Linked DNA regions of Homo sapiens: regions 1, 2, 4 and 5 are each linked to region 3. Evidence: fine-mapped expression QTL. A gene starts in region 3. Each other region holds a variant in brackets. All regions are shown on one strand. Distances are from middle to middle.

Region 1 (5,000 bases), 280 kb after region 3:
GCAGATTGTTTAAGGACAGGAGTTCAACATCAGCCTGGCCAATATGGTGAAATCCCATCTCTACAAAAAATATAAAAATTAGCTGGGCGTGTGCCTGTAATCCCAGCCACTTGGGAGGCCGAGGCAGGAGAATTGCTTGAACCTGGAAGGTGGAGGTTGCAGTGAGCCGAGATCCTGCCACTGCATTCCAGTCTGGGCAACAGAGCGAGACTCAAAAAAAAAAAAAAAAAAAAGATTATTTCTAGCAGCTTCATTTCATTCATAATAGCCAAAAACTGGAAACAATTTGAATGGCCACTAACAGGAGAACATAACATAAATGATGGCATATCCATACAATGGAATACTACTCAGAAATAAATTAATTTTTGATGCATATGGATAAATCTCATAATATTAAGTTGAGCTTAAAAAGCTAAACACAAAACATTATATACTATTGTTTGGATTTATATGAATTCAAGAATAAGCAAAACTAATCTGTAGGGACAGAAGTGAGAACAATGGTTACCTTGATGAAAGGAGAAGGTACTGACAGAAAAAGTGCATAAGGAACCCTTATGGAGTGCTGGAGATGTTCTGTATCTTCACCTGAATGGTGCTTACATATTTTATGTGTGTGTGTTTGTGTGTGTATACACACATGCACATATATATAAAACCATGTATAAATTCAAGGTGTTTCCTAAAGATTCATGCTCCTTAGTCATGCATTTTGCTACATATATTGTATACCTGAACAAACATTAAAACTATTTCTTCAAAATATGGCTGGACATGGTGGCTCATGCCTGTAATCCCAGCACTTTGAGAGGCCAAGGAGGGGAGATCACCTGAGGCCAAGAGTTCAAGACCAGCCTTGCCAACATGGTGAAACCGTCTCTTACTAAAAATACAAAATTTGCCAGGTGTGGTGGTGGGCGCCTGTAATCCCAGCTACCCAGGAGGCTGAGGCAGGAGAATCACTCAAGCCCAGGAGGCGGAGGTTGCAGTGAGCTGAGATCATGCCACTGCACTCCAGCCTGGACAACAAGAGCAAAACTCTGACTCAAACAAAGAATAAAATAAAATAAAATAAATATGCCCATGTTTTGCCATACTTCTGTCTCTACTTAGGACAAAGTTTTTAGGACTATACATTTTTAGTGGGATTTCTAAAATTTTCCGGTATGGCATCATATAGGAACTTTATAAAATTTTACTGGCAAACTACCATTAACTGACTTGAAGGCCTGGTACAGAAAATAATCTATTCTAACCTACTATTGAATGGTGCAAAAATCCTCCTTTTAATATCATAAAAAGTGGTCAGTTGGTCTCTACTTAAATGCCTTCTGTGAAAAGGCATTTACTGTGGGGCTTAAAATCTAGATGACGGGTTGATGGGTGCAGCAAACCACCATTGCACATGTATACCTATGTAACAAACCTGCAGGTTCTGCACATGTATCCCAGAACTTAAAGTATAATAATAATAATAAAAAGACATTTACTTCATTTACTGGGCACTTGTTAAGTGCCAGGCACTCTACTAGACCATAAAAATAAGAAAAATATTAATATTTTCTAGTCTGGCATTAAAGAGTTTGCTTTCTCTCATTTTACCACATAAATATTAGAGTGTTGCACAATGTGAGAGCACAAAATAATGTGGCTTAGCCTGTCTTATAATGAGCAGAAAATTGTTTCCCTATAACATTCACTCACTAGACTTTCCTCATTCTTTCAAAAATATTTATAGTTTAAGAACCCATCATACAAACTAAGAGATAGGAAAGAAATTTAACAGAAAGAGAAAATCATCACCCTCCTGCCTCAGCCTCCTGAGTAGCTGGGACTGCAGGCATGTGCCATCATGCCCAGCTAATTTTTTAATTTTATATAGAGACAGAGTCTGACTATGTTGCCCAAGCTGGTCTCAAACTCGGGGTTCAGGCAATCCTCCTGCCTTGGCCTTCCAAAGTGCTGGGATTACAGATGTGAGCCACTGCACCCAACCCAAACTAATACTTCTTGATGTGATCCTTTAAGAAATCACCCTCACTTATGTAGGATTGTCATTACTGCCAAAAAATGTTTAATCTGAAACTAGTCATGAGAAAAAAAAAAAACAGACAAATACAAATTGAGAGTATCATGTAAAACATGGCCCAAATACTTAAATATTAATGATATAAAAACTTTAAAAAAGAGAGAGAACTATTCAAGATTAAAGCAAACCAAAGAAATATGACAACTAAATGCAACTGTGGTCCTTAATGAGATCTTGATTTTTAAAAATAAATTTTATTTTAAAAATTAATATATCTGTGCACACACATATATGTAAAAATGAAAGCTATAGGCCAGGCGCGGTGGCTTACGCCTGTAATCCCAGCACTTTGGGAGGCCAAGGAGGGCAGATCAGGAGGTCAGGAGATCGAGACCATCCTGGCTAACATCGTGAAACCCCATCTCTACTAAAAATACATAAAAATTAGCTGGGCATGGTGGCGGGCGCCTGTTGTCCCAGCTACTCGGGAGACTGAGGCAGGAGAATGGCGTGAACCCGGGAGGCGGAGCTTGCAGTGAGCCAGGATCGCACCACTGCACTCCAGCCTGGGCGACAGAGCAAGACTCCATCTCAAAACAAAACAAAACAAAAAAATTAAAGCTATAAAGAACATTATTGTGACAATTGGGGAAACCAGAATTACATGTTAAGTTTCCATCTCATGTGATAATTGCATTGTGGTTGTATAAGAAAATGACTTTTCTTAGGGTACACAAGCTGAACTATTAAGTGGTGAAGTGCAACCAATCCTTAAATGGGTCATAAAAAAAAAGCGTGTGTACTGTGAAGTGGTAGAGCAAATGTGGCAAAATGGTTA[AG/G]TTGATGAAGATAGGTGAAGAGTATATGGGTATTCACTGTACTATTCTTGTAACTTTTCTGTAGGTTGAATTTTTTTCCAAATAAACAGTTGTGGCCAGGCTTGCCTACAGTCCCAGCTATTTGGGAGGCTGTGGCAGAAGGATTGCTTGAGCCTGGGACGTTAAGGCTGCAGAGAGCCATGTCTGCGGCACTATACTGGAGCCTGGGCGATAGAGTGAGACCTTGTCTCAAAAAAAAAAACCAAAACAAACAAACAAAAAAACAGTTGGGGGGAATAAAGAAAAAACTTTCTTGACAAAGTCACTGTGGAGATACAAAGAAGGATAAGACACAGTTCTGGCTGTCACCCTCTGCAGCCACAGAAAAATTCAAAAACTAGAAATATTTGAAGACAGATATTACATGGTTCAATAACTCACCAAACAGGTAAGTCAGCTCTGCATGTCAAAAAATCTAATCTTAACAACATGCAATTTCAATTACAATCAAACTCACAAATTATATAGGATGTAAATGTCTAAAAAAATATTACTTATCATTAATATAAATAATTAGTAACTAACAATTCTATGAAAACATCAGGAGTAAAATTTTTATCCAATCCTGATAGGGTGTGGTGGCTCACACCTGTAATCCTAGCACTTTGGGAGGCTGAGGGGGTGGATCACTTGAGGTCAGGAGTTCGAGACGCAGCCTGGGCAACATGGTGAAACCCTGTCTCTACTAAAAATACAAAAATTAGCCTGGCATGATGGCAGGCGCCTGTAATCCCACCTACTTTGGAGGCTGAGGCAGGAGAATTGCTTGAACCTGGGAGGTAGAGGTTGCAGTGAGCCAAGATCACGCCACTGTACTGCAGCCCGGGCAACAGAGACTCTATCTCAAAAAAAGAAAAAAAAGTATCCAATCCTAATGTAAAATGTGGACTTGGGTTGGCTACGATGTGTCAGTGTAGGTTCAACAAGTGTAACAAGTGTACCACTCTGGTAGGGGATGTTGATAAGCCAGGGTTTTAAACTCAGCTCCTCAGGCCCTTTCATGTTACCTGCTCTTCCTCACCATAGCACTCCTGAGAGGCTGCCATGGAACCTGGGGAACATGCTTTAAAAACCAATGTAGCAAGGGGACAGAATTCCCCACAGCCCGACTGCTAGCTAAAGTGGAGCACCTGAGCTCATCTGAGAACAATCTTCATTAAGAACCTTTCTCCTGAAAAAACTTCTAAATATACAGCAAAGAACAGCAGCTGATTTTTGCCACATTTACTTTATCCATATATGTGCACGTATACACTAAGTTGTATCCAAAACCTACAGAGTTCCACACAAAAGTAATTCAACAGAGGCAGCACAATGCTGAGTAAAGTAGCTATGCAATTTTAGTTGCTGTTTTGTTTTCTTACCTCTGCTGGTAGAGGACTGGTAGTTACTGGCTTGACTGGGTCGTGTGACACAGCCAGGGTTCCTGCAGAGGAAGTTCCATTCATTGTTAATTTGGCTGCATCAGCAACTTCTCCATTGGGCAAGATCCCATCAGCAAACCAAACTCGCCTCTGCTCTCTGGGCTGAGCCACTTGAGGGGCCAGAAAAATAAAACAGGCATCAATGTGGCATTGGAAGGTTTTCTAACATCAAAGAAGAGAAGGTCACCAATTCCAGATGTACAAAGAAATCATTACTTGGCAACTTACAATCAGAAACATCAGAAATGTAACTGTATATAAAAGTGGTTATAAATGAATTAAAAATACAAATTTAAATATATTCTTTACTTGTTTAACTTATATGCAAAGAGTAAAATACTTTGCTTTGAAATATTAAGAGTTCTTAAATACATCTATGATTATGTCACATACTCTGTCCCGTATCACTGACAGAGAAACTAAGGAAAGTGTTCAAGGGCCTCGGAAATAAATTAATAGCATGGTGAAAAAAGCAATAGACATTCACATTTTCTAAAGTTATGAGGTTTCCAAAGAAATTAAACATCTGGTAAAGTGATATGGTACTTTCAAAGGGCAAAAGATGCCCTGAAGAATGTTAAAGAATAATTCATTTATAACAGAAGAGCTGGCACAGATATGTAAGAATTGGGAAGCAAACTGACCAGATCTTTGCCTGAAGTGTAA
Region 2 (5,000 bases), 89 kb after region 3:
CGCCTTCTTTTTTATCTTAAAAAATTTTTGTAAAGACAAAGTCTCACCATGTTGCCCAGCCTGGTCTCAAACGATCCTCCCACATTGGTTGGCTTCCTGAAGCGCTGGGATTATAGGAGTATATAAAGTATTGACCAAATCTAAGTCTCTATTATATAAAATCATGCTCAGTTTTATTTGCTGATGAGTATAGCTTCTTTTTTGCCTCTCAGCTATCATTGAAATTTCAAGTAGAGCATCAGAACTGGATGGGGGTATGAAGTTTTGAAAGTATAAAGTGTCCTATAAATGTGTAGTCTACTTTAGAATTAATAGGAAGAGCCAGGCCCAGTGGCACACACCTGTTATCTCAGCCACTTGGGAGGTTGAGGTGGGAGTATTGCTTGAGGCAAGGAGTTCAAGACTGTAGTGTATAATGATTGTGCCTGTGAATAGCCAGTGCACTCTAGCCTGGGCAATATAGCAAGACCCTGTCTCTAAAAAAAAAAAAGTAATAGGAAGAAAAATCCAATTCTGTTAAACCACAGCTTATTTGAAATGGTAGCTGTTATTGGATGACACTGAGTCTGAAGGGTTAACCCTATCATAATTTATATCAAGTGGACTATAATCACTCATTTTTGGAAGAGCATCGTATACTAAGGTGATATTTGTAAACCTACATGAATTGTGCTTTGAAAGAACTAATTTATTTTTAAGAGGGCAGTCCTCAAATATTGATCTTAACTATTGGTAGTGATGTTGAGAATGTATAAAAGCAGATGGATTTATTATGTAAGTCGGAAAAAGCTAAAAGTCTCAATGATTGTTTGGATGTGGACATTGAGAGACAGATATTAAGGATTGCACCTGTATTTCTGATGTGGGCATCTGTGTACATGATGGTACTATTTGCTAAGAACAGGGATAATAGAAATAGTAATAGATTTGGGGCAAAGTTGATAGTTCAGACGTGTTGAATGTATGATGTCTGTGGAAAATTGGAAAAAGCAGTTGGGTACATGGGTATGGGAACTTGGGCAAAAGCTTGGGCTCAAGATGTTTTGGAATTTCTCAGTATTTCTTCCAGTGGTAGGTAATTTAAATCATAGAAATGGACAAGAGCATGTTGTATTAGGTCATCAGCAGATAGCAGAAGACTCCTCCTCTCTGCTTATAATAAGGCCTTGGACTTTGTTTTCCTTTGCTTAGAAAAGGCAAGGTTGTGCTTATTTGGCTCTTCTAAGAATGGATTTGGATTTCGTGATAGTGATCTGGATATTTGTATGACCCTGGAAGGCCATGAAAATGCAGAGGTAAGAGTGTTTGGAAAGCGTTATGTAAGTTTATTTTCTCCCAATGACGATTCTATGTTTATTTTTGTATGTGATATTGATAAAAATGTGGTATCACTCTTTGTATAAATATATTAGCAAAATAAGTGTTTGAAATATGAAAACAGTAGCATTTTCAGTTTAGAAGACATTGAACTCTTAAGTAAAAGTGTTTCAGTAATTTTATGATACAAAAACCATGTCACTGAGAGTTACAGTGATTTGTAATGAATTTTGGGAAAAAATATATCACGAAGTTGGAATTTTTTCACTAGAACCAATGGGAAGCTGATGCATCAGTTTTGTAGTGAACATTGATCTTTCATACTTTGTCTTCTCATATCTCTTTCATTAGATGATGTCTTTGTGTTACTATAGGTAGTAAATATAGGTGGTCATCTAATTTATAATTGGTTTTGTTCTAAAAGTTAGTTATAATTTTTGACCACTCACATAAAATTTTTTCCATAGAAGCAATGTTACAGATGATATGCTAAGGGCTGGGCGTGGTAGCTCATGCCTGTAATCCCAGCACTTTGGGAGGCCAAGGTGGGCGGATCATGAGGTCAAGAGATCAAGACACTCCTGGCCAACATGGTGAAACCCCGTCTCTACGAAAAATAAAAAAAATTAGCTGGGCATGGTGGCACGCGCCTGTAGTCCCAGCTACTCAGGAGGCTGAGGCAGGAGAATCGCTTGAACCCAGGAGGCGGAGGTTGCAGTGAGCCGAGGTCACGCCACTGCACTCCAGCCTGGTGACAGAGTGAGACTCCGTCTCAGAAAATTAAAAAAAAAATAAATAAATAAAATGCTAAGATAGCTTTTAGAAACTCATTTTGGGCGGGGAGGAGAACTAACATTTATTGAGTTCCCAGTATACACTTTTACATACATTATCTCATTTCATTCTTACAACCACCTTCGAGGTAGGTATTATTTCCCCCATTTTACAGATGAGGAAACTGAGGCTTTGAAAGATAAACTGACTTGTCCAAGTTCACACAGCTAGTAATTGTTGGAGCCGGGATTCGTAACCCAGGTCTGTCTGACTCCAGAGTTCATGCTCTTTCCATTGTATCTCACTGCCTCTCTGTAATTTTTTTAACCCATAATGTAGCTGAAATATAGTACTAATAGTACTGTAGAACCTAACCACTGCTTTCTGAAACTGATAGCTTTCTGAGTTCCACCGTGAGATGCCAGGAGCAGACCTTCCCCAAGTGCAATTTCAGCAGTAAGAGTGGGTACTTACGCTTTCCTTTTTTGTATACCAGGCCTTAATAGTGGGAAGGAGATTGTCCAAGCTCCAGGGAAGAAAAAGACTGATTGGACAGGGAAGAAGTGTCCCAGGCCTTCTCAACAGCAACTAGCAAAGGAGGGTATC[C/T]TTGTAGATGTTCAGTCCTTTACCAGCCTAGCTATTGTTATTTATGTTTCAAAATGCGGGACTGTTTGCAAGATTGGGGTGAGGCCCAGCTTCTGGCATCTGTAGTGGTGTCAGTATCGCCTCTGTTACATTATAAAAGAATTCAGCAGAATAGTGTGCTTTTCTAAAATCATTCTTTTGAACGGTGGTTTTGAAATTGTTAGACCCGGAGTAAAGATGGCAGTGATGACTTAACTTCTGGCCATAAGAAGTTGCTTCTGGTGTCTTAACATCTTGTTTTATAAAGAAACTGAAAAGTTGCAAGTATTTTATTTGTTCTCCTTTACTTAAATTCTGCTTAGAGCCACCTACTTGGAAAGTGGCTGCCCTTCTCCATTCTGAAGAGTAAGAATTGAGGGAATAGGAAATGATTTTTATACCCAGGAAAGAGGTTAGAGTTTTAGATATCTTCTATGTAAAATTTATTAAACTTCTAATCACTAAGGGTTTGTATATTATATATAATCTGTGCCATTCCTACTGGGAAGTTGAAACAATGAAAATAATAAATCATTTTCTTTCAGATGAGCCATAATTGAAACTTTTAAGATTAGCATAATTGTATCGTTGAATAATAAAGAGAAAAATTACCTCCTTTGTTAATTTTATCATATGTGAATTAGTAACTAATGGTTTCTTTGAAATCCTTTGGTTTAGCTGCAATGGCTCCTGCTCTCATGTAGCTAAAAAGAACATGTTGGAAAAATGCAAATGACTTTATAACTCTTGGGATTGATGTTTATACCCTTCAGCTATTTCCAGTTAATTTTTAATGCCATAATCATTATGTATTATGATTATCATTACCATACCAACTCTGCTGTCTCTGGTTTTTACAAGAGTAACACATTTAAATTTACAGAGGTAAGAATTTCCTTGGAGAAATAGGTGCTGGTGATAATAGGAGTATCTTTCTTTTCCATATCAACATAATTATAATAAATAACTCACAGATTTAAAGGCTTATTTTGTGCCAGGCATTCTGCTGAGTGCTTTACATACATGTCTCATGTAATCCTCCCAACAGCTCTGCAGGACAGGAGTTTATGATTATCTTGATTTTATAGAATAGTAATGTAATGCTCAGAGAGGTTAAACATCTGGTTAGTCACACAGCTAATCAATACTTAGTTTAAGATTTGAGACTGGGTGCAGTGGCTCACGCCTGTAATCCCAGCACTTTGGGAGGCTGAGGCGGGCGGATCACGAGGTCAGGAGATCGAGACCATCCTGGTGAACACGGTGAAACCTGGTCTCTACTAAAAATACAAAAAAATTAGCCGGGCACGGTGGCGGGTGCCTGTAGTCCCAGCAACTCGGGAGGCTGAGACAGGAGAATGGCATGAACCCGGGAGGCAGAGCTTGCAGTGAGCCGAGATAGCACCACTGCACTCCGGCCTGGGCGAAAGAGCAAGACTCCGTCTCAAAAAAAGAAAAAAAAAAAAAAAAAAAAGATTTGAATCCAGGTTTGTCTCAATTTGGAGCCTATGTACTTAATCAGTATATTGTTTTGCCCTCACCAAACTCACCTCTAGTTGTTTATTCACTTATTGAAAACCATATTCTTCTCCTGTCTTTGTGCTTCTCAAACTTTAATCTGCATGTGAATTACCTTGGGATCCTGTTAAAATGCAGATTATGATTTAGTAGACTGGGGAGGGTCCTCAGATTCTGCATTTCTATCAAGTTTCCAGATTATGCTGATACTGTAGGTCTATGAATCACTTACTTGGAGTAGCAAGGTTATTATAGAGCTTTATGGCTGGAAATTGTAAATGCTACTATTAAATGCTTAGATTAAAGTAGAATTTGCACAAGGTGAAATTGAGTCAAACTTATTTATTTGATTTGTTTTTTAGAAATTAAATTGTAAGGAAATAATTGAAAATTTGGCAAAAATTCTTAAGAGACATCCAGGTATGAATTTTGAATCTTATCTGTAAAACAAAATAAATTTTTTTAGCATATATGAAAATTATTTAACCTACTGAAGTCTTTTTTTTTTAAATTAGGTTTAAGAAACATTTTGCCTATAACTACTGCCAAAGTGCCTATAGTAAAATTTGAACACAGGCGAAGTGGGTTAGAAGGCGATATCAGTTTATATAATACGTTGGTAAGTTTATCTTTATAGGCCATGTATATACTTTTCATTTTAAAAGTTTACAGATTACTGACTCTATGTTTAAAACTTTCAAATGTGAACAGTATAAGGAAAAAGTATTTTACTAGTTATCTTGATAGTTCCTTCAGATTGAAGGTCA
Region 3 (5,000 bases):
TTCAGAACTTCCAGACTGGAGGCTTAACCACAATCATGAGATTTCCCTTGAAAGTTTAAGTCCTCAGAGGATTTTTACATAGAAATCAGACATTTACCATTTTATATCTCAAAAACCTGTGGTTCAATGGGAAGAATACAGGGCTGGTATTCTAGTCCAGCCTGTGACTTACTGTATGACCCTGGGCATGAATTAAACCTTATACTCCATAAATTTCCTTATTCTTTGTGTCAGAACCATACTTGCTCTAGCTGTGATGATAAAATTATAGTTGTCAAAATTTTCAACTCGACAACTATGTAGGTATCAGAAGGAATACCTTGTAAGTATCTGTGCTGAAGTGTACAATCTATTGGGGTCACGGAATTCAGAGAATAGAGGGATCACATTCAGTGGAGTGCAGAGGAGGGGTGGTAATCAGGAAGATTTAATAAAGAAGGTAGAGGTTGAGCTGGGTCTTGGGGAATAAGCAAGGTAGTAGAAGAGAGTATCTGGAGGGGATAAGGGCAGAGAGGCACTGAAATTTTCAGTCTGGCCCCAGTTTTCTTTTCCAGATTCATTATCTTCTGCACACTCCAGAGTCAATGCTGCCCTCTGAATCACAGACATGTGTCTGGCACACAGCAGACAGATCTTCAAGGTCCAGCTTTTAGTTCTTCCACGGAAGTCTCACCAAAGTGGAATTTATCACACTCTCCTCTGGATTTGCCCAGCCCTTTGTTAATAAGACCTGTTGCTTTTATTGTAGCTCACCTGCTTGCTCAATGGGGAACTTTTTGGAGACAGGAAGCAATGATTTGTCTTTGTTTCCCTAGGCACCTAACAACGCTTTGCTCTTAAGTAATTAGGAAATGTTTACTCAATTGAACTTGTTCTAAGGACACTGCTATCACTGAATTGAAGGGCATGTCGGTATCTTCTTAGTGTCTCTATAGGCTTTAGGCTTTCAGCCGGGTGAAGTAGGGATTTTTTCTTTGTTTCCAGGCTAGTCAAGCGAAGCAGGGATACAGATTAAGAATTTGCAGATGAGGAAACTCAAGAGGGTACATTTGCTCAAAGGCATCATGTTGATAAACGCCAAAACCAGGTAGGGCTCTTTTGACTTGAAATCCAGTCCTCTATCCATTATACCTGGGCCTTGTAGCATCAGCCAGATTGGGGTAAAATGCACTAACTCTGAACCCTAGTTTTTTCATCCGTAAATGAGAGCAACAGTACGTAACTCACAGGGCTATCGTGAAGTGGAGCGTCCCTCTGTGACCTCTAACCAGTCCCAGCCTGAGTCACATTATAAGAAAATTTATAAGGCACTATCTTGTAAATACTTAAGATTTAACATCTTCCCTTCACCTCTACGTCCACTCTTTTCATACCTTTTTCCTGCCTAGCATGTGTCAAACTCAAAGGACTGGGCACAGAGCACAGAGGTTGTGTGCTTTGTCCAGCTTTGAGGTCAGAGATTGGCTAAATAATCTCTGAGGCTGGGGTCTTAAAAAAAAACAACAAAAAACAAAACTAACAAAACCTTAAGTCCGTTCCGCCCGTGACTTTAAATAATTATGTAGAGGAATGTAATACGTTAAAAGCAAGGGGATGAGGGGGCCCATTGATGGTAGATGGTTTTATGCCCGCCTGCAGCTAAAGAAATGATTTCTAAAACCTCTTTTGGGGGTGGGAGATGGAGTGCTCCAGAGATTTCTCTTCGAGCTCCTTCATTCCTGAACTGCCTGCCTTTTCAAAGGAAAAAAGGTCCAGCTGCGGTGGGCTGGAGGCCGTGGTGAGTGGGTGGGGGTCGACCCTGGCGGCTTCCTCTGCCCCGCTCCCTACCGTTGCTCCGAAGCCCGCTTGGGCTTCCGAGGGTCCGCCGAGGCTCGGGCCACGCCCAGTCCGAGTGCCAGGCCAGAGGGTACCCATTCCAGGCCGGCCTTCCTCCCCAGGGGGAGCAGCCTTGGGAGCGAGGCGCCGAGGCGGCCCTCGGGCTCGGCTTCCAGCTCGGGGGCCTCGGCAGAGACTAGGAACCAGACTGGGGCAGCACTGGGGCGCCCGCCACCCCCACCCACTCCGGCAAGCGGGCGAATCAGCGCGGCTAACCCGCGGCGCCCAGGCGGGCTGCGGGACCTCGCGACCTCCGCTCGGCGGCCCCGCCCCTGCCCGCGAGCCCCGGGTGGCTCCCTCCTCCCCTCTGCCAGCGGCCCGCCCCCTCCTCGCGAGCTAACGAGTGTCTCTCGCGCGCTCCCTTCCCTCCGCGTGGGTGTGAGTGCGCGATCCTCCTACCTCGGCCTTCTCCCCATTGTTTCTTCGCGGCCACCACGAGACCCCTCCCCCCAGTGCTGTTTCCCCCCTCCCCCGCCCCGGTGTAAACGGTGCCTGTGGGGCCCCCCGAACGAAGGGAGGGGGCACCCCTGAACCCTTCCCTCTGCGCGTAGCTCCTCCTCTCCCGGGCCAGGACCCCATTACAGGCTCTGTCCTCTCCCCTCCCCCTCTCCCCCGGCAACCGCTCTCCCTCGCCCCCTCCCCTCAGCGGGTCCTCCTCTTTCTCTCCCTCTCCCTCTCCCTCCTCCTCCCCCTCCCCATCCCTTCCCCCCCACAATGCAGTTCGCGGCGCGGCGGACATGGCGGTGGAGTCCTGAGCTAGTCGTGTCCCGGCCTCCAGCGGCGGCAGCGGCGACGGCGGCGGCAGCAGGAGGCGGAGGGAGAGCAGGAGCCACTGAGATGAGGAGGCGTCGCGCGCGCCTGTAGCTCGCGGGCCTCGCAGGTACGAGGTTCCGGCCGCGGGGCAGCGTCGGGTACCGAGGGGGTGTGCTCGGGAAGGCCGGGCGGCCCCCGGTTCGCCCTCCCCAGGTGCCGCGCTTCGCAGGTGTCGGGGGCCTGGCCTGAGAGCGTCTCAGCCGCCCCCTGGGGGCCTGACACTTCTTTCTTTCCTGGAACGGGCTTCGGGTGTCCCAGGGGAAGGCTGAGATAAGGGAGGTGGGGACGGCGGCCTGGGCGGCCTGAGGAGGGCATTGGGGCGCTTTGGGGACGAACTCCACACTGTGGCTGGGGCTCCCGGTCCCGGACCGAAACCTGTTGTAGACCAGCGGGGCGGATTTTGAGTTAACGGGATTGGTTTGAACATTTCTGTTGGGTCCAGTTACGATTCCCTGTCATGTGTACCTTTTTCTTTCACCCTTGCTTAGACATAGGTGACTACATAATGTATATAAATGTATACACGCATATAATACATACTGAATGTTTCCCCGGGCTCGTCCTTGTAGGGAGAAGGCAGAGGTGTCTGTGTGGATTTTGTTTCTTGCTCGCCCGCCTTCTCTCTCCCCCGCCCCCCAGTCGAAAGGTGGTAATGCGCGGTTTTGACGTGGGTAACTGAGATTCGTATTTGTAAACAGATAGCGCTCTCCTAGTGTGTTGCACGCCTCTGCGAAGGGTTTCAGACTCCTGTTGGTATCTGGATTGCGAAAGAATGAGATGTTTAGACCTGAAAGAAGCACATCAGCGGGATTTCTAGTCGTACTTGAATGGGATGAATTACTGTTGTATTAACAACGTTGATTACACATTTTCTTTTCAGAAGATTTCGAAGTCTTAGATGAATTTTGCGTGAGATCTTAGATACCGTATATCTGCTTCTTCATTTTGATAGAAGTAGTAGTTCCTTACACATTTGACCTGCCCTATCGTGATCTTAAATTGTGTCCAGAAATGCAATTCGAATTGTGTATTGTTGGCATGCATTTAGTAATTAGCCCGAGTGGATCAGATGGCCTTTTATTTCCAAAGATTTTTTCCCTCCAGTCTTACAGCAGCGAAATGTTTGTAGCACTTGATGAAACAGAACATATCCTGTTTCTGTTTTTAAAGTAATGAGAACTGTTAGCTAATAAAATTGGATAATCCCAGCCAGATATGATAATTCAGAGAATACCACCGAGAGGTGTTGAATTGTGGGATGGTTTAAAAAGAAAAGCCGACTTTGTGTGTGTGTGTGTATGTGTGTGTGTGCGCGCGCGAGCGCGCTGAAATTTTCTTTAGGCTTAGAACTCATGTATGTCACTACACTGCATCGTAGTACTGATTAGTCACAACTGGTAAAATGAAATATTGATTCTCTTAAAAAGCTGTGCTTAAGATAACTCATTAGTGTCTAGTGTGCTATGTTGCTTTTATAAACAAATTTTTAAAGATTGCTTCTTAGAAACCATATACTTTGGGGAAGATAAGAATTTTAAGTCGTTTTATGCTTTAAAAATATTTATATTTAATATAAACAAAAGAAACTTACTTTTAAAACTCTTAGATAAATTTTTCTGCTGCTTGCAGTTTTTCACTTGGCTAGTGTGGAAAATGAAAAATGAAGTTTTCTTAAAATAATTCAGAAATGGAAGTGAAAGTTAATGACATTTGATGTTTTAAATCCAGCAAACATTTAAATACAGAAAAGAAATTTAAAGTATTTTCATTGTCATAGGCCAAGTTGTTAGTACAGATAAATTAACAAATATTGTCATGCATATAAGTTCAAGTTTATAAATTCTAAGTGACACCTAAAATTACATTTATTTTTAGTTGCTGGAGCTAGAACAGTACAGTGTCTACATTTTAATTTTAGACCTTTTAGAATCAAAATGTATAATTATAAATTTCTCTGATTAACAAAGAGCTGTTTAAAGAGAATTTTTATTAGCTCTCAGCAGATTCATTTTAGAGTAAGTAATTAGAATTCTTTTTTATCTCAAAGTTAATCTTGACATAAAAATAAGTACCATTAATTATGTTGTGTTCTCTACAGAATGTCAAATCAGGATCTGTTGATCAAGAAAGGTGTTTGAATTTATTCACTGTTAAAGTTTCTAGTTTCAGAGAAACAAAATAACCAACACTTACCTGTAGGGCCTGGCCAGGTGGCTCACTCACGCCTGTAATCTCAGCACTTTGGGAAGTGGAGGCGAGAGGATTGCTTGAGCGTAGGAGTTTGATATCAGTCTGAGCAGCATAGTGAGACT
Region 4 (5,000 bases), 49 kb after region 3:
GAAAGAAAACTTTAGGCCAAAACTCCTCATGAACATAGATGCAGAAATTCTAAATATAACTTTAGCCAATTGAATCCAACAGCATATTAGAGGAATGAATGTGTCATGATCAAGTGGGGCTTTATTCCAGGAGTGCAGTGTTAGTTTTACATTAAAAAATCCCTCATTGGCCAGGCGCAGTAGCTCAGGCCTGTAATCCTAGCACTTTGGGAGGCTGAGGAGGGCGGATCACCTGAGGTTAGGAGTTCGAGACCAGCCTGGCCAACATGGTGAACCCCGTCTCTACTAAAAATACAAAAATTAGCTGGGCATCGTGGCTCATGCCTGAAATCCCAGCTACTTGGGAGGCTGAACCCAGAAAGTTGAGGTTGCAGTAAGCTCAGATCGTGCCACTGCACTCCAGCCTGGGCAACAGAGCAAGACTTCATCTCAAAAAACAACAAAAACAAAAAAAACCCCGCTCATTGTGATTTACCATGTTAGCAAACAGAGAAAACTATGTGATTATCTCAGTAGATGCTGAAAAAGCGTTTTCAAAAATGCTTTGATAAAAAGTCTAAGCACAGCCAGGTGCGGTGGATCATGCCTGTAATCCCAGCACTTTGGGAGGCTGAGGTAGGCAGATCACCTGAGGTTGGGAATTCGAGACCAGCCTGGCCAATGTGGCGAAACCCCCTCTCCACTAAAAATACGAAAATTAGCCGGGCTTGGTGACCCACACCTGTAATTCCAGCTACTCGAGAGGCTGAGGCAGGAGAATCGCTTGAATCCCAGAGGTAGAGGTTGCAGTGAGCTGAGATGGCGCCACTGCACTCCAGCCTGGGTGGCAGAGTGATACTCTGTCTCAAAAAAAAAAAAAAAAAAAAAGTCTAAGCAAACTAGGAGTAGAAGACGACTTCTATAACATGATAAAGACATCTACAAAGCTGGGTGTGTTAGTCCCAGCTCCTTTGGTTGTTTGAACCTAGGAGTTTGAGATCAGCCTGGGCAATATAATGAGACCCTGTTAAAAAAAATCTACAAAAAACTAACAGTTATCATCATACTTAAGTATGAAAGACTGAATGCTGTCCCCCCAAGATTAGGAAAAAAGACAGGTATGAAAGTAGTGTAGCTGCCATGGAAAAGAGTACGGTGGTTCTTCAACAAATTAAAAATAGAACTACAGTATGATCCAGTAATTTCACTTCTGGGTATACACTTGAAAGAATTGAAAGCAGGGTTTCAAAGAGATATTTATACAACCAGGTTCATGGCAACATTATTCACAATAGCTAGTATGTGGAAGCAATTCAGATATCCATTGATGGATGAATAGATAAGCAAAATGTACAGTATTCATACAATGGAATATTACTCAGCCTTAAAAAGGATGGAAATTCTGCATTATGCAACAACATGGATGAACCTTGGGAAATTATGCTAAGTTAAATAAGCCTTTTAGAAAACGAAAAATAGTGTGTGATTCCACTTACATGAGGTTTTTAGAGTAGTCAGAATCAGAGACAGAATAGTGCTTGCCATAGGTTTGGAGGAGGGGAAAATGGGGAGTTATTGCTTGATAGATAGTTTTGATTTTGCATTTGTGTTCTGTGTTATAGTATTTGGTTTTTATTTTGAGCATTATGGAGTTTAATAACATGTTTGTTTTTTTTCAAGATAGAGTCTTGCTCTATCGCCCAGACTGAAGTGCAGTGGCGCTATCTCATCTCACTACAACCTCCACCTCCTGGGTTCAAGCAGTTCTTCTGCTTCAGCCTCCCGAGTAGCTGGGATTACAAGTGCATGCCACCACGCCTGGCTAATTTTTGTATTTTTAGTAGAGACGGGGTTTCACCATGTTGGCCAGGCTGGTCTCAAACTCCTGACCTCCTGATCCACCCGCGTCAGCCTCCCAAAGTGCGGGGATTACAGGTGTGAAACAGTGCACCTGGCCATAACATGTATTTTTGCAAGGTCACTCACCCTGGCTTCTGTGAAAGAAGCCTGAGAAGGGTCTGTTTGGGGAGACCAGTTAGCCTTTCATAATAATCTAGTTAAGCTGTGATGAACACTGACCTGAAGTAGTAGTTAGTGAGAATGGAATTGAGTTTTAAGAGAGATTCAGGATGTAGAATTGTGGGAGTACAGGCCTAGGATGTCTTGAATGATCATAAGGTGTCTGATTTGATATGTTATCATAGTTTGTGGTGCCATTTACTTAGCAGAAATAAAAAATGTTTCATAACATTCTGAGTTTGAGACACTTACAGAACATTTCAAGTAGAGATGTCCCACAGTCATTTGAATATAAGGATCTGGAACTTATATTAGCAGTTGGAGATTCAGGTTTGGTAAACTTCAGCAGTTGAAATCATAGTTGTGGATGAGGTCACCAAATGAGTAAGGACAGAATGTCAAGGAATACAAACATTTAAGGGACTAGTAGAGGAAGAACAGTGAATAGATTGGTGAATGAGTAGAATAATAGGAAAAATAGAGAAAGGTGTTAGAGAAGCTAAAAGAAAGGAAAGTTTCAAGATGGTAGTTGAAAATGTGATAATATAGATAAAAATAATCTAAAAGCTTAAAAGATGTCTGATTTGGTGCCTGTAGTCTCAGCTACTCAGGATGCTGAGGTGGGAGGATTGCTTGAGCCCAGGGGTTTGGGTCCATACTGGGCCACGTAGCAAAATCCTGTCAATTAAAAAATAAATAAAAATTTAAAATGTCAGATTTGGCAACTAAGGAGGTTTTGATAATCCTGGGAAGAACAGTTTCTGCTTTAGAACTAAAAAAGACATAGTTTTGAGTGAGAAGGGATAAGGAAATAAAAGGAGAATAGACTCAACTTTCAGGAAACTTCATTGTGCAGAAAAGAAGGGAAGATTGGTAGTAGCTAGACTGGCACACAGTTTTTTTTTTCTTTTAATTTGGCAGAGTAAAGTTCTTATCACAGTTTTAATTTTTTAATTTAAATAATCATTTAATTAATCTTTCTCTCTTGACTGTAAGCTCCATGAGGGCTGGGATTATATGCATTATTTTTTTCCCATCTTAGCAC[A/G]GTACCTGGCATATAGTTGTTCCATAAATATTTGTTGATTAATGATTTAAATGGAGTGGAAAGAGCATACGGGTTGGAGTTAGAACTAGATTTAATTCTCAGTTCCACCTTGTAGTTGTAGGACGATATTTAACATCTGTAAGCCTCAGTATTCTTATGTATAAAATGGTTTTGGTAGTATCTATCTGGGGAGTAATATTGTGAGAATTAAATGACATAACATCTGTAAAGCACTTGGCACGGTGCCAGGTCCATAGTGGGTACTCAATAAATGATAGTTGTTGCTGTTAGTGTAGAGGCGAAGAGTGCTTACTTAATGTGCCAGGCTTGGTGGCTCACGCCTGTAATCCTAGTACTTTGGGAGGCCAAGGAAGGTGGATCTCCTGAGCTCAGGAGTTTGAGACCAGCCTGGGCAACATAGTGAAACCCCATCTCTACCAATAATACAAAAAATTAGCTGGGCGTGGTGGCACGTGCCTGTGGTCCCAGCTACTTGAGAGGCTTAGGTGGAGGAGCGCTTGTATCTGGGAGGTGGAGATTGCAGTGAGCAGAGATTACTCAATTGCACGCCACGCCAACCTGGGTGACAGAGGGAGTGAGATCCCATCTCAAAAAAAAAAAAAAAAAAAAAAAGAGGGCTAAGAGGGCTTACTTAATGAAAACACAGACTAGTAGATTGTGTAATGTTTAAGGAGAAGGAGATTATTACTGAGTGGGTAAAGAAGGATGGAATTCAGAGCACAGGTGATAGTATTAATCATGATTTAAATGGAGCATTTCATTATGTTGGAAAAGAAAGATATTAAGGGTTCGCTGAATATTTGACTTTTAAGCTGTAACTTGAAGGATGATTAGTTTTACCAGGTGGATACACATAGGGGACAAAATGATTTAAAGGCATGGAGACCCAATGGCACATAGAGTATTTGGAGACTGGTGACTGTTTAAATGTGGATGTCTGTCAAAAATATTGGAGAGGGTGGAGGGAATGGTTGGAGGAAGGCCTAGAAATGCAAATTGAGACCAAAATGCTTTATATTCCATGTTAAGAACATGTTGCATTGTCTTACCGGCGCATTGAAGGTTTTTTTTTTTTTTGAAATTTTTTTATTGTGGTAAAATATATATAAGATAAAATTTACCATTTTAACCATTTTTAAGTGTACAGTTCAGTGACATTAAGTACATTTACATTGTTTTGCAATCATCTCCACTGTCCACCTTCATTCAGAACTTTTTCATCATTCTATACTGAAACTCTGTATCCATTAAGCAATAACTCCCCATTCCCCTCTCCCTGCAGCCCCTAGTAACCACCATTCTATTTTCTGTTTCTATTTGCTTGTCTATTGTAGGTACCCCATATAAATGGAATCATACATTATTTATCCTTTAGTGTTATTTCACTTAGCATGTCTTCAGGTCAACCGCGTTGTAGCATCTGTCAGAATTTCTTTCCTTTTTGAGGTTGAATAATATTCCATCGTATCTGTATGCCATGTTTTGTGAATCATTTCATCCATGGATGGACACTTGGGTTGTTTCCACCATTTGACTGTTGTGAATAATGTTGCTGTGAACATCGATGTACAAATACCTATTTGAGTTCCTTTTTTCATTTGTTTTTTGTATATACCCAGAATTGGAATTGCTGGGTCAAATGGTAAATCCATGTTTAGTTTTTTGGGATTGCCATGCTGTTTTCCACAGTGGTGACATCATTGTACATCTTTACCAGTAATGCACAAGGGTTCCAAATTCTCCACATTCACACCAACTCTTGTTTTCTGCCTCCCCCCGCCCCCCCATAATAGCAATGCTGATGGATATGAAGTGGTATTTCATTGTGCTTTTGATTTGCATTTCTCTAATGATTAGTGGTATTTAGCATCTTTTCATGTACTTATTTGGCATTTGTATATCTTTGGAGAAATGTCTATTCAAATCCTTTGTTCAC
Region 5 (5,000 bases), 22 kb before region 3:
ACACATAGTAGCACTTTATTCATTTTTTCAGTAACTTATTCAAAATAATTTTTATTGAGCATCTGTCTTATATGCTCTAGTCCAAGTGCTGAATTATGAAACTTACTATCTAAAGGACAGAGAATGAGTAAGTATTTACAAGTATGATAAATGACACCAAAGAAAAATATAAGGCATTAAAGGCCATATAATAGGAAGGTCTAATTGTGTCTTCAGGTCAAAGAAAGCTTCCTTCAGAAGTAATGTTTAAGCTGAAAGCTGAGTAGAAGTTAGTTAGATAAGCGCTGGGAAATGGGTGGGAAGACAATGGAAGTCGGCATGTGTGAAGGCCTAGAGGCTTTAAGCAGCCAAATTTTGTCCAGGGAACTGAAGGGTGTTTAATATTGACTGAAGCACAGAGTATGGGACGCAAGAAGAAACAGAGCTTGTTGGAGGTCAGTTCATTTAGGACTTTGTGGTCATGCTGGAGTATTCACAGATCCTCTGGGCCTGGCTTTGTTCTCAGTATGAGGAATACATAGAATCGAATCAGATCTTAATGCTCTTTAATCCAAGGCCTTAAATAGCTCACAATCAGGTAGGATAGACACATTTTGACAATGGTAGTGCAGCATGATAAATATGATAATAAAGAACTGATTTTCATGGGAATTTATAGGAGTGATAATTAAGAAATAACATTATTCCATCAATTGCCTTTTAAGTTATTTCACATTGCTTCCAAATTCTTACTAAACAAGCCAATTGTAAGACTAAGTTTAGATTAATGTTACTTTTAGACACACAGAAAAATGATTTAGCCATTTAGGCTAAAAAGCAATTTCTATTACAGTTCTTGCTCTTGCTTTTTGCCTCTATACTACATCTTTCTTTTTCTTTTTTTTTTTTTTTTTGAGATGGAGTCTCACTCTGTGGTCCAGGTTGGAGTGTAGTGGTGTGATCTCGGCTCACTACAACCTCTGCCTCCCAGCTTCAAGCAATTCTCGTGCCTCAGCCTCCTGAGTAGCTGGGACTACAGGCATGTGCCACCACGCCCGGCTAATTTTTGTATTTTTCATAGAGATGGGATTTTACCACGTTGGCCAGGCTGGTCTCGAACTCCTGACTTCAGTGATCCGTCCACCTCGGCCTCCCAAAGTGTTGGGATTATAGGCATAAGCCACTGCGCCTGGCTAATACTACTTCTTTCTTTTCAACTCTCACTTATCCTTTAAGACTCTGGTGAGCTTTCCCCCTTCCACTTTACCTCAAGTAGAGTTAGAAATCTTTCCCTCTATGTCCCTGAAGGACCCTGGGATCTCTATTATAGCACTTATCACAATATACTACAAGTGTTTATTTTCCTGTATCCCCTCTAGGCTTTTATTTCCCCCAATAGAGTTCTGTATTTTTTTATTTTTTAAGAAAAAGGGTCTTGCTCTATTGCCCAGACTGGGGTGCAGGGGCACAATCATAGCTTACTGTAATTACTCATGGGCTCAAGAGATCCTCCCACCTCAGCCCCCTGAATAGCTAAGACTACAACCACACACCACCATGCCAGCTAATTTATTTATTTTTGTAGAGATGGGGTCTTGCTATGTTGCCCAGGCTGGTCTTGAACCTTTGGCCTCAAGTGATCCTCTTGCCTGGGCCTCCCAAAGCACTGGGATTATAGGAATGAATAGTGCCTGGCCTCCCACTAGACTTAAGCATAGAGATTTTGTCTTGCTCATGCTTCAATCTGTCATTCGATAAATATGTGTCAGGTACCTACTATATGCCAGACATCAGGCTAGGTGCTGCAGATTCAGTGACGACCTGGATAGACTCAGTTCTTGCTCTTGTAGAGCTTATAGTCTAGTGCAGAAGGTTGACAAGCAAATGGGCAAGAAGAGTATGTATGAAAAATGTTATGATGAGGAAAGTGTCAAGTGCCATGGGAAGCCCAGAGCAGGTGTACCTAACTTTCTTTAGGGGGCAAATGGAAGTCTTTCAGAAGGAAGCAATTTAAGCTGAGAATTGAAGAAAAAGTACAAGTTAGTTAGTCAATGTGGCAGTCATGGGTCAGAGGTGGGAGAGAGCACAACACATTCCAGAAACTGAAAGAGGACTGGGCACGGTGGCTCATGCCTATAATCCCAACACTTTGGGAGGCTGAAGTGGGAGGATTGCTTGAGTCCAGGAGTTTGAGACCAGCCTGGGCAACATAGCTAGATTTTATCTCTCCAAAAACATATTAAAAATTAGCCAGGTGTGATGATGGGCACCTGAAGTCCTACGTACTCAGGCTGGAGGCTGGAGGCTGAGGCAGGAGGCTCATTTGAGCCCAGGAGTTCCAGGCTACAGTGAACTATGATCATGCCACTACTCTCCAACCTGAGTGACAGGGTGAGACCCTGTCTCCAGCAAAACAAAACAAAGAAATTCACAGAGCAGTCGAGGTTAGGGGCAAGCAGTGAAGATTGTGTGAAGTGGGGTGTGGCCGGGGTGAGGAAAACAGAGATTGGTGTTTAGTGTGATAATTATACACATAGAAAACTCTATGTAAAGTGTTTGTTAAATGAATGGATGAGCCA[T/C]TCCAAAACCTGAGAAAGAAAGACATTTGGGAAAAGCAAATTTGTTTGTGATTGTTCATTCCTTTGTTCACTGGGAGGCATTGTAGTGTGTTGGCTAAAAGTCTGGACTCACACCAACTGCTTGGGTTTGAATCCTGGCTTTGACAGTTAATAGCTGAGTGACCTTAGACAAATTACATAACTTTTCTATGTGCCATTTTCCTCATCTGTAAGAGAGAAATGATAATAATTCATAGAATTGTCATGAAGATTAAACAAGTTAATAATATTTGTAAAGCACTTGGAATAATGCCTAGAATTAAGCACTGACTGTTTGCTATTATTATTCCTCCATTCATTGAAACATTTATTGAGGGCCAAGTACCATGCTAGGTGCTGTGAAAATATGTGGCTTCAGCCATGGAGGAGGACCATAAAATCTGGTGAGGGAGAAGATTCATAAATAAGCAATTACAACACAATGTGATCAAGTGAGGCGATAGTGGTAAATCCTGCAGAACTGAACAAGACAGAGTGACTCATTCTCTCCAAAGAAGCCAAGGGAAGCTTCAGAGAGAAGAATGTATTTAAGTTGGGTGACGCAGAATGAACAGAGTTTGGCAGCAGACAAAAGCAGTATGGTTTATCAGGCCAAGGAAGCACCATGTTGCAAAGGTTTAGTAGGATGCAAGTCTAAGGCATGTTTAGGAAATGGCAAGGGGGTCTTGAGCACCTGTTATGTGCCAGGGTCTGTGCTAGGCACTTTTTATATGTTCTTTCACTTTCCATAAGAACTTAAGAGGTGAGAATTATGGTCTACATTTTTTATGAGAAGGTGATCTGAAAGATTGAGAGACTTGCTCAAGATCGTGGAAAGCAGTGGGTCTAAATTTGAATCCAAATCTATGTGACTCTAAGGTCTGTGTTCTTTGAGGAAAGGATGGGGCCTGACAATGACCTTGTGAAGTTTTTAGTGTAGCTAAAAGTACAATACTTTTATTTATTCCTTTATTTTTTAGAGTGAGGGTCTTACGCTATTTCCCAGGCTGGAGTGCAGTGGCGCAGTCATAGCTCACTGCAGCCTCAAACTCCTGGGCTCAAGCGAGCCTCCTATCTCATCCTCCCGAGTAGCTACGACTATAGGCATGCATCACCATGCCCAGCTAATTTTTAATATTTTTTTGTAGAGACAGAATCTTGTTTTGCTGCCTAGGCTTGTGTTGAACTCCTGGCCTCAAGCAATCCTTCCTCCTTGGCCTTCCAAAGTGCTGGGATTACAGGTGTGAGCCACCACTCCCGGCCCAATATTTTTATTTTAAATTTTAATAATGTTGGATGGCAATCTTGTTAAGTAGGCACTTGGTATTTCTCAGTCGTCATAAATGGAAAAAACTGACCTTAAATTAAACTTTTTTTTTTTCAATATTCAGTTTCTTTTAATGATCCCCATCTCCTTAAAGAACAGGTACAGGAAGCAAGGCAATGGCAAGAGCTGTTTACTTGAAGATCTTGCCCTGACTGAAGTTAGCCCACATGCTGGAAGGCCCTTTTCCAGGAACAGTACTCACAAACCAGTGTCTGGGTCTCCTTGCTGCCAGGATCCAGTTTCTGCCACGTGTATGACTCGAAGACCACCTGCCAATCTGGACTCAGTGTCAAGGCCTGTGAAGACCCAGGCTCCAGAAATGGAGCTGATATTGTTGCTTCCAAAGAGGATGGCACTGGCAAAGGCATTCTTTCTCAGTTTGTTCAACTGCTGGAACATTCCAGCGATGAGATTGCAACTCCAGAAGGTCTGGGTGAGCTTCTCAGGAAAGCAATACTCAGACCAACCATCCTTATCAGAGTGCTCCCGAAAATACGGCAGCACCACATTGTGTCCTTATAGGAGTACTTGTGCTTAAATTCATCCATCACAAAGGTACTCGGGCAAGTGAGCAAAGGGGTCTTGGCTATCCGATGCTCAGCAGCCAGTGCCTGCTCACATTCATCCATCTCCTCAGGAGCAGGGTCAGCCGCCTTTTTCTCCTTTCTGTTCAGCCTAGGGCTTCTGCTTTTCTTCCCGTGAACTTTTCTCCTGTGGGGTGTCCTTTTTAGGCCTGCTCTCTGCAAATATTTTAGCATCAAATAGGGCCATTTTCTCCTATCATTTTACTTCCCCCAAGACAGCCTGGAACTGGGGCTGGTTAATGCAGGTGAGAAAGTTAGTATCATGACCACTATTTGTGATTCTGTGATGTTCTGTGTTAATATCCTGAGGGTTTGTTAGGGGATTTCCCTTTTATACGTGTGTTTCCCAAATTGTCTTTTGAGGAGCCCTGGGGTGCCCTAGCTAACTGAGGGCTCTAGAGGATATTTTGACATTTTAGGAGAAATACAAGCTGGGCGCAGTGCCTCATGCCTGTAATCCCAGCACTTTGGGAGACCCAGGAGGGTGCATCACTTGAGGCTAGGAGTTCCAGA

Alleles and levels. Positions count from the first base shown, and alleles are read on the strand shown. Sizes are in standard deviations (SD) of each study's normalised expression. Not every link is listed here.
For the expression in putamen of the gene that starts at base 2,594 in region 3, allele G in region 1 goes with a higher level than allele AG (large effect, 0.79 SD a copy in GTEx).
As copies of A replace G in region 4, the expression in cerebellar hemisphere of the gene that starts at base 2,594 in region 3 goes down (moderate effect, 0.69 SD a copy in GTEx).
For the expression in prostate of the gene that starts at base 2,594 in region 3, C is the high allele of the variant in region 5 and T is the other (moderate effect, 0.62 SD a copy in GTEx).

What was found. PIP is the estimated chance that this variant, and not a neighbour inherited with it, causes the effect. A credible set is the group of variants that fine-mapping cannot tell apart.
Region 1: its variant is the best candidate, but not a certain one, in a credible set for the expression of TUT4 in putamen (GTEx, PIP 0.65).
Region 2: its variant is the best candidate, but not a certain one, in a credible set for the expression of TUT4 in blood mononuclear cells (TOPMed, PIP 0.59).
Region 4: its variant is the best candidate, but not a certain one, in a credible set for the expression of TUT4 in cerebellar hemisphere (GTEx, PIP 0.57).
Region 5: its variant is the best candidate, but not a certain one, in a credible set for the expression of TUT4 in prostate (GTEx, PIP 0.89).

What each region holds. Positions count from the first base shown.
Region 1 is chr1:52,267,907-52,272,906 of GRCh38, reverse strand. It overlaps ZFYVE9 (zinc finger FYVE-type containing 9), which reads right to left. Exons shown (of 19, transcript NM_004799.4): 7 at 4,275-4,444. Among named protein-coding and RNA genes, the nearest start is that of CC2D1B, 96 kb to the left of the region's middle. The variant AG/G (reference allele first, on the strand shown) is at 2,871.
Region 2 is chr1:52,461,365-52,466,364 of GRCh38, reverse strand. It overlaps TUT4 (terminal uridylyl transferase 4), which reads left to right. Exons shown (of 30, transcript NM_001009881.3): 16 at 1,192-1,295; 17 at 4,596-4,653; 18 at 4,749-4,852. Among named protein-coding and RNA genes, the nearest start is that of PRPF38A, 59 kb to the right of the region's middle. The variant C/T (reference allele first, on the strand shown) is at 2,698.
Region 3 is chr1:52,550,686-52,555,685 of GRCh38, reverse strand. It overlaps TUT4 (terminal uridylyl transferase 4), which reads left to right and starts at 2,594. Exons shown (of 30, transcript NM_001009881.3): 1 at 2,594-2,755. It overlaps LOC105378723 (a long non-coding RNA gene), which reads right to left. Exons shown (of 4, transcript XR_007066083.1): 2 at 4,882-5,000; 3 at 4,280-4,329; 4 at 2,849-3,445. RefSeq lists silencers at 1,892-2,291, 2,302-2,411, 2,452-2,581, 2,652-2,981.
Region 4 is chr1:52,501,286-52,506,285 of GRCh38, reverse strand. All of the region lies in intron 4 of TUT4 (terminal uridylyl transferase 4), which reads left to right. Among named protein-coding and RNA genes, the nearest start is that of TUT4, 49 kb to the left of the region's middle. The variant A/G (reference allele first, on the strand shown) is at 3,044.
Region 5 is chr1:52,572,855-52,577,854 of GRCh38, reverse strand. It overlaps the pseudogene EEF1GP7. Among named protein-coding and RNA genes, the nearest start is that of TUT4, 22 kb to the right of the region's middle. The variant T/C (reference allele first, on the strand shown) is at 2,559.